3 separate regions of the Homo sapiens genome follow, and regions 2 and 3 are each linked to region 1. Evidence: fine-mapped expression QTL. A gene starts in region 1. Each other region holds a variant in brackets. All regions are shown on one strand. Distances are between the middles of the regions.

Region 1 (2,757 bases):
TATTTAGGACATCTTGCAACTATAATCAACATATGCAAAATATCCTATTTCAAAGAAGATCCTTCCTTTATAAGATTAGTAATTCTGTTGTATGAACAGGATTTTTCTCTATTATGCTAAATATAATCATTTTGTAGTAAATGAATACGGCAATGTACTATATGAAAATTTATATGTAATTTGATTATTGTAATTTAACAAATAGTTCTCTTACTGAAGATCAGGCAGCATATTTTTCTATTTAGGGATGAGGAAACAGAGGTTTGGAGAGGTTAAGCTGTTTTCCTAAGGTTATATAACAGGTATGTGGAATTCTGATGCAGGAACTCCTATCTGTTTAATCCAAAGTGCCTCACACCCAACAATACTGCTTTTACTTGATATATAATGATAAAACCTTGATATATAATGATAAAACCTAACTGCAATCACCAATCTTTTTCTTTTTTTTCTTTTCTTTTTTTTTTGTTTTTTGAGATGGAGTCTAGCTCTGTCACCCAGGCTGGCGTGCAATGGCGCGATCTCCACTCACTGCAACCTCCACCTCCCAGGTTCAAGCTATTCTCCTGCCTCAGCCTCCCAAGTAGCTGGGATTACAGGTGCCCGCCACCACGCCCAGCTAATTTTTGTATTTTTAGCAGAGACAGGGTTTCACTGTGTTGGCCAGGCTGGTGTCGAACTCCTGACCTCGTGATCCACCCTCCTTGGCCTCCCAAACTGTTGGGATTACAAGCGTGAGCCACCGCGCCCGGCTCACCTATCTTTTTCTAAGGATAGAGACCAAAGAAGCCACAACCCCTTCCAAGGAGTCAACTGACGCCAATGGGATGCTGTGGTGCAGGACACTTGGGGGGTGCTGCAGCTGATGCCCCTTGGTCTCCTGGTGGTGGAAGGGAAATGGGACTAGATACGAGATTGGCATCTAAGCCATACAAAAAAGCTGTCTCAGACAGGTTGGGCCAGTAAGCACAACGTCACTTATCTATATTGGCTTCTGGTTACCTAATGGGTTTGGTTTGGTAAAAATTAAGAATCAGACTTCTGGGATGCAAGCTATGCCTGTTCAAAATCTGCTGTCAGCCCCTGTGTTTCAAGCTTAACCTTGAACCTCATCATTAATCAGGTGACCTTAGACCGTTTTATCAGCCACGTATCTGCTAGCATAAATCTCCCTTCTGTGAATTCAGAACACTGATACCTCACATTCACTAAAAATACAATGAGAGACAGATGCTCACTTTCTTTATTTGCTGTTGTATTCTTGGTCCCACTTTGCCATTTTTAAAACAGGAAAACGTTTCCCTTACTCGAACGCTAAAGTGCAAAGCTGCTGGTGACGCTGCCTTCTCCCACCTCCGCACTCCACTGTCCTTGCAAACTTTGGACAGAGGAAAGGTGGGCACGGGGCGCGAAACTACAAGTCCCGGCATGCACGGCGTTCTCCGCACAGGCGCACGGGGACCGCCGGGCCAGCCGGCCAGCCAGCCTGCGGAGACTCCCGGGTCCCCGCGCCGGACTGGGACTGGGAGCAGGCAGCCCGGGCGGAGCGGGCCGGTGCCGAGGACGGCCCCAGGCATTGCTCTGCCCCGGGCATTGCGCGGCGCGCGTGAGGGGGATGCGGCAGGAGGCGGCGCGGCGGGAGGAGTAGGCGGCGGCGCCCTCGGGAGGGAGCTGCGCGCGGGCCAGACGGCGCCCGGAGGCTCCGCAGTGCCGCCGCCGTCGCCCGGGAGGCTCCGCGCGGGAGCCATGTAACCCTGCGGCGGGCTCCGGGCTGCTCCGTCCTTCCCCAGCTCCCGGGCTAGCGCGGCAGCGGGGCCACGATGAAGAAGCAGTTCAATCGCATGCGCCAGCTGGCCAACCAGACGGTGGGCAGGTAGGTCACCCGCGGGCACCGCTGTCGGTGCGCGCCCGCGAGGCTGCATCCGCAGGGGCGCGCAGGTGATGGAGCCCGCCCAGCCTCCAGTCCTCCTTGCCTCAGTCCTTTCCCCTGCACCAGCTCCCTCCAGGCGCCGCTCGCAGGCGCGACCCCTCCTCCCTAACTTCCCAGACCCCGGAGCTCTTCTCACTCGCCGCCTTCTGCTCCGGGCTCCGGTTGCCAAGCGCAAAGTGTGACGCATCCTTTACCTGCGTCCCCGGCTGCCCCTTCGCTTCGTCCTCCCTGCCTTTCCCCGGGACTCCCTTCTCCCTCTGGCCGCCTGTCTTCCTGGAAACAGGTGTTTGCTCTGATTGTGCTGGAGGCAGCCGAACCGCAGTCGGTCTCCGGAGATCTCTTCCCTCCCCTCCCCTGCGCCGAGTTCAGGGCTGCTCCCGGGTCCAGGGAAAGTGCTGGGCCTGGTCGGCCTGCCCCTCCCGCCGTGTTTGTTTTCAGGGACTATGACTGTACGAGATTCTGGATCACTTTCCTGGCCGGGTTTCTTAAGGCGTTTGGTGGGGGGAAAGGGTGAGGGGTGGGAGAGGAAGGAAGGTGCTGGTGGAATGGCGTTGCTGCCTGCTTGATGTTAGGACTGATTTCAGTGGAGGGAGGGAGGCTGCAAAAAGGAGGCCCAAGTCCTCGGGAAGATGAGATAAGCAGAGAATCGCAGCCAGGTAGGGGAGGGGGACAGAGGCCCCACAGTCAGAAGAGTCAGGCCCCGGGAAGCTGCAAGACCCCGCCTGCTGCCATCACGGTGAAAATGGGCTACATCTGGACTCCAGGAGCGGCTCTGCAGGGTGCCAACATCTATTAAGGTTACATAAAAATCCTGGTGGGTCGCTCCC
Region 2 (2,757 bases), 190 kb after region 1:
ACCCAGGAGGCGGAGGTTGCAGTGAGCCGAGATGGTGCCACTGCACTCCAACCTGGGTGACAGAGCGAGACTCTGTGTCAAAAAAAAAAAAAAAAAAAAGTATTTTCACTGTAAAACCAGGAAATGACAAAGGGACAGGGGGTTAGATAGTCTTAGAGCATAGGAGGGGGCACCTGACCCTGGGCATGCTGGGTTGCTGTTGATGACTTCAACTCAGAGGATGCTCGGTCCTGGCTGTGTAATTGCTAGGCCACAGATGGACCTGAGAGATGCAGATGCGGGCACAGTGAGTTCATTGGAGAAGCAGAGTCTGAGAGTGGTGGGCCAGGTGAGGCCGACCAGGAGGAAACGGACCCACAGGCGGGAGATGGGCTGGGACTGCTTCCTTTTTGGACACTCCTCAGCTTCATCCTAGTTTCCCATCTTAGAAAGGGGACTCAGTGCCATATGGTATTTGGCATATAAATGATATTTCTAAAAAGTGCTCCTTGAAGATGGATTCCCCCAGGCTCTGAAGGCATTCCAGGAACATTCTCGGTGGGTGACCTTGCAGAGTTACTTGTGGGCAGGCAATGGCACCCTCTGGTTTCGATTATTTTAAAGCCAACTCACATTGCTCTATAGCCAAATGTCTTTCCCCTTTGCCCGGGCTGACCGGTTTAGTAACTTTTCTTTGGATGTTAGTGTTTTGTGTTTTACACCACTTTTTGTTCTCTCCCCGCATGGGTTTCTCCCAGTACAAACAGGTGTTCCATTGTTTTTGTTTGTGTTGTTTGTTTCTGTTTCCTGGATGTTTGCAGCCCAGATGATGTTCCCTCGAGTGGCCGGATTCTCGTTCTGGCTCCCCCTCCCCTGATGGCAGGCCCTTCCTTGCCTCTGACTGGTTCCCACCTTCCCACTCCCTACCCCAGGCCCCACCTTCAGTTCTTTCCCTGGCTCTGTCCAGCCAGGCTCTGCCTCCACATCCCGCCCAACTGCTTAGCATGAATGCTAACCCCAAAATTCTCCTTCCTGCTTCTTGGCACCAAGGTCATGGGCTGAGTCATGCATCTTCAGAGCTAACTTGTCCTCAAACGTGCCTTAAACATGCCTTGTTCA[G/C]GTAGCGCCCCTAGTAGCCGCCCTACGCCCCACCTCTCCCCACTGGGTCAGCTGCACCTATGCTGGAGAAAGAGGACAAGGCTAAGTGGGTAAATACTTGTTTCTGTGCTGGAGGAAGTGTGTCCGGGCCGGGCGTGGTAGCTCACGCCTGCAATCCCAGCACTTTGGGTGGCCGAGGGGGGTGGATCCTGAGGTCAGGAGATCGAGGCCATCCTGGCCAACATGGTGAAACCCCGTCTGTACTATAAATACAAAAATTAGCTGGGTGTGGTGGCACATGCCTTTAATCCTAGCTACTTGGGAGGCTGAGGAAGGAGAATCGCTTGAACCTGGGAGGCAGAGATGACAGTGAGCTGAGATCATGGCACTATACTCCAGCTGGGCAACAGAGCAAGACTCCATCTCAAAAAAAAAAAAAAAAAAAAGTGTGTTTCGTGGCAGGGAACAGAAGGAAGAGCTCATTCCTAGATTCCTTGGATAGATGTGTGTCCAAAGGAAGGAAGAAGAGTCTACCCACCCACAAGAAGCAATTTTTTAGTTTGCTGATTATGAGATGTTTTTGATTGGTTGACTGGCCTTCCTCTTGATAGTGGCAGAGATAGATGGAAGGGTAGGTAGATATTTGGCATTGATGCCCGGGTACCTGGTAACCTGCAGCCTGAGGTCCTTGTCCAGCCTGAGTGAGGCAAGGGTTTTCTGTTTCTGTTTTTCATGAACAGAATAGAGAAAGGAATTACTGCTCTTTTGGTTCCTCTGAATAAAATGGTTTTTGCCCCTTGGGGAACTAGGTATAGTGTGTAAGACTCATCCCAAGTGGGAGAGAATGTGCCTCCACATTGAATGTGATCTTCCTTTTATTTCTTTGCATGAGGAAAATGACCTGTGCTTTGACGCTATGGGCTTCCCCGGCCCAGCTCCCTGCTCCCAGTCTTTCTCACCTCAGTGGACGAGAGTGCTCTATTCCTATTGGAATTTTCTCCAAATTAACACCTGGAGTTTCTAGATCAGTTTAGGAAAGAAATAGGCTGTGCCTGCCTTTTTTTTTTCTTTTCTTTTTTCTTTTTTCTTTTTTTTTTTGACAGGGTCTCCCTCTGTTGCCCAGGCTGGAGTGCAGTGGCACGATCTCAGCTCACTGCAACCTCCATCTCCCGGGTTCAAGCCATCCTCCTGCCTCAGCCTCCCGAGTGGCTGGGATTACAGGCACATGTCACCACGCCCAGCTAATTTTTGCATTTTTAGTGTAGACAGGGTTTCGCCATGTTGGCCAGGCTGGTCTCAAACTCCTGACCTCAGGTGACCTGCCTGCCTCGGCCTCCCAAAGTGCTGGATTACAGGCATGAGCCACCATGCCCGGCCCAGGTTGTGCCTGCTCTTGTGGGATAGAAACAGCCATTGCAGAGGATTTGGGTTCCCAGACTCTTCATGCCCCACCTGTGGGCATCAGAATCCAGGTAGGTTCTAGCACGGATGACAGATGGCTCCCAACTGTGGGGCATCTCCCCTGATTCACTAAAGGCCACCTGGAGAATTTTCTTGGAAAGGATTGAGAACACTGTGGGGGAAGTGTGGAGATCAATTAGTAATATCTACCATCAGCGTATCAGGATGACAAATCCCTGGTTTGTGGTGTAGAGTGAGGTGTCTTCTAATACGTGCTTC
Region 3 (2,757 bases), 780 kb after region 1:
CATCATATGGCAGGTGCAGGATCAAAGGTTGGGCTCCTGTGTCCAAGGATCCTTTCCATCCTAGGGGGTGACCGCTCGGACCACTTTCTTGTGGGACCCTATCTGGAAGGACTAGGAAAACAATGCATTTGGAAATTGTAAATGGAGGCTTAGAGAAAGTCGGGGTGCTAAGAAATACCCATGAAAAAAGGGCATCAAGGGAGGCCAGCAGAAAGTATGCGAGAGCTGCTACAGGGATTTGATCCTGAGGTTGATATAGGGCTCACAATTGTATTGGCTGTAATTAAATCTCTGGCTTCTGTTCATAGAGGCTGGGCTCCCTAGAGGAGAGGTCCAGGCTGTGTTTTAATTTGTTAAGGTCATTTCACCTGCCTGATCTTCACACCCATGCTTTTATTTTACAGGATTAAGTAGACGGGGAATTCAACAGCTATTTTCTGAGTTTTTACCATGTGCAAGGCACTGTGCCAGAAACCACAGGAAAATAAAAAATTGAGCAAAACACAAACTCAAGGAACTAGCCGTCCTGTTAGGGATATGGGAGGCAGGAAAAGAATAAGTTAAAATTGTATATATTGAATTAGGGAAAGCAGATGACCCTTTTCCGCCACAAGACCTTGCTTATTTAACAGCCTGATCCCAATGAGCAGAAAAGGACTTTTATGTGGAGTCCTGGAGTTCAGGAGGTCCTGGAAGAAAGATTACAGCCAACTCCACTAAAGTTTTTCCACTGATGTCTGGATTTCATTGAACACCATGAGATTCCTCACCCTGATCTCCTAGTTGACAAATCCATCAGATTTTCAGTATTCTTGGCTCTCCTTAGCCTCCTTCCTGTCCACATTTAAAATGACCTTTCCCCAACCTCTATGGCATTACAGTTGCCCTAGATCTCATCCACCCTCTCTGAATGCATTTTAGAATACCCCAATGCCCACAGGAAGGCTTCTTCCAAGACCTCCTCCTCCTTCCAACTCATAAATACTCAATCCATCCATGCTTTGTCTTCTCACTTCCAAGCAGAGCATTCCAAGCCTCCATTTGTAGTGTTATGCCTGTCTCATGGAAGGTTCCACCTAGAACTCGAAGCTCCCCACCTGACCTCTCTGTCTATCCACAACCATGCCCCCTCAGTTCTACCCATTTCCACACCACCATGCTGCAAAGTTGGGAAAGTCATCATTTATGATTCCTTTTTAGTCTCCTGAACCAACCAGAAATCGAAATCTGATGATTCTTCCTCTCCAGTCTTTCCTGGTCCAGGTCTTCATCGCCACCAGCCCAAAAGACAGTAGCTGTGTCTCTGGCAGAGTTCCCACCTCCAGAACCCTCTATCCTCACAATCAACATGTGACTGAGCTCAATGTTGAGTGTGAGTGTCAACAACACGGGCTGAATGTTTGTACCCCTCCCCCAAATTCATATGTTGAAACTGTAATCTCCAATGTGATGGTACGAGGAGCTGGGGGCCTTTGCGAGGTGATTGGATTTAGATGAAGGCATGAGGGTGGAGCCTCCAAAGTGGAGTTACGGGCACA[G/A]GGGAGCTTGCCTCCTTCTCTCTGCTCTCTCTGATATGTGAGAATACACAAGAAGATGGCAGTCTGCAAACCAGAAAGAGTGCCCTTACTGGACACCAGCTCTTCCCACGCCTTGGTCTTAGACTTTCCAACCTCCATAGAAGTAAGAAATCAGTATTTGTTGTTTAAATCAGTGGTATTCTGTTACAGCAGATAAACTAAGACCATTCCCTAATGCAGTTCTCACCCCAGTACTCTCTATCCTTGTGCTCAATTAATTCAGTATATACCCATTGCCATATCACTCTTTTTTTTTTTTTTTTTGAGATGGAGTCTCACTCTATCACTCAGGCTGGAGTACAGTGGCGCGATCTCAGCTCACTGCAACCTCCACCTCCCGGGTTCAAGTGATTCTCCTGCCTCAGACTCCCAAGTAGCTGGGACTACAGGTGTGTGTCACCACGCCTGGCTAATTTTTTGTGTTTTTAGTAGAGACGGGTTTTCACCGTGTTAGCTAAGATGGTCTCGAACTCCTGACCTCAGCCTCCCAAGGTGCTGGGATTACAGGCCTGAGCCACTGCGCCCGGCCCTATCACTCTTAAAACAGTGGGTCGGGTGTGGTGGCTCACACCTGTAATCCCAGCACTTTGGGAGGCTGAGACAGGCGGATCACGAGGTCAGGAGATCGAGACCATCCTGGCTAACACGGTGAAACCCCATCTCTACTAAAAGTACAAAAAATTAGCGGGACATGGTGGCGGGCGCCTGTAGTCCCAGCTACTCAGGAGGCTGAGGCAGGAGAATGGCATGAACCCAGGAGGTGGAGCCTGCAGTGAGCTGAGATCATGCCACTGCACTGCAGCCTAGGCAAGAGTGCAAGACTCCATCTGAAAACAAAACCAAACAAAACAAATACACACACACACACACACAAAAAACACACAAAAAAAATGAAGGGCATGTCTCATAATCACCCTGCTCAAAAATGTTCCCCATGTCAATAGATGGTAATTGTAAAACACTAAAACTGATGTCCAGGGTCCCTTGCAAGGGGGGTCTGCTTTTTCTTTCCCATCTCACCTTGAAATACTGCTTGAAGACAAAATATCCCCTATAGTCAAATTAATCCTCTTGCCACCATCCTGTAATGCATCCACATATGCTTCCCTCTTCCACTTCACAGTTGCCCCTACCTGGAATTTTTTCTCAGTCTCTCTGTTTATCTAATTCCTATCCATTT

Alleles and levels. Positions count from the first base shown, and alleles are read on the strand shown. Sizes are in standard deviations (SD) of each study's normalised expression. Not every link is listed here.
As copies of G replace C in region 2, the expression in unexposed skin of the gene that starts at base 1,480 in region 1 goes up (small effect, 0.21 SD a copy in GTEx).

The links. PIP is the estimated chance that this variant, and not a neighbour inherited with it, causes the effect.
Region 2: its variant is the best candidate, but not a certain one, in a credible set for the expression of ARHGAP44 in unexposed skin (GTEx, PIP 0.62).
Region 3: its variant is the best candidate, but not a certain one, in a credible set for the expression of ARHGAP44 in prefrontal cortex (GTEx, PIP 0.61).

Annotation. Positions count from the first base shown.
Region 1 is chr17:12,788,019-12,790,775 of GRCh38, forward strand. It overlaps ARHGAP44 (Rho GTPase activating protein 44), which reads left to right and starts at 1,480. Exons shown (of 21, transcript NM_014859.6): 1 at 1,480-1,873. The coding sequence starts at 1,821. ARHGAP44-AS1 (ARHGAP44 and MYOCD antisense RNA 1) reads right to left here and starts at 2,266. Exons shown (of 2, transcript NR_104607.1): 1 at 2,125-2,266. RefSeq lists a silencer at 1,407-1,756.
Region 2 is chr17:12,976,534-12,979,290 of GRCh38, forward strand. All of the region lies in intron 18 of ARHGAP44 (Rho GTPase activating protein 44), which reads left to right. Among named protein-coding and RNA genes, the nearest start is that of ELAC2, 40 kb to the right of the region's middle. RefSeq lists a silencer at 739-1,033. The variant G/C (reference allele first, on the strand shown) is at 1,099.
Region 3 is chr17:13,572,311-13,575,067 of GRCh38, forward strand. The region is part of intron 1 of HS3ST3A1 (heparan sulfate-glucosamine 3-sulfotransferase 3A1); the gene reads right to left. Among named protein-coding and RNA genes, the nearest start is that of HS3ST3A1, 28 kb to the right of the region's middle. The variant G/A (reference allele first, on the strand shown) is at 1,539.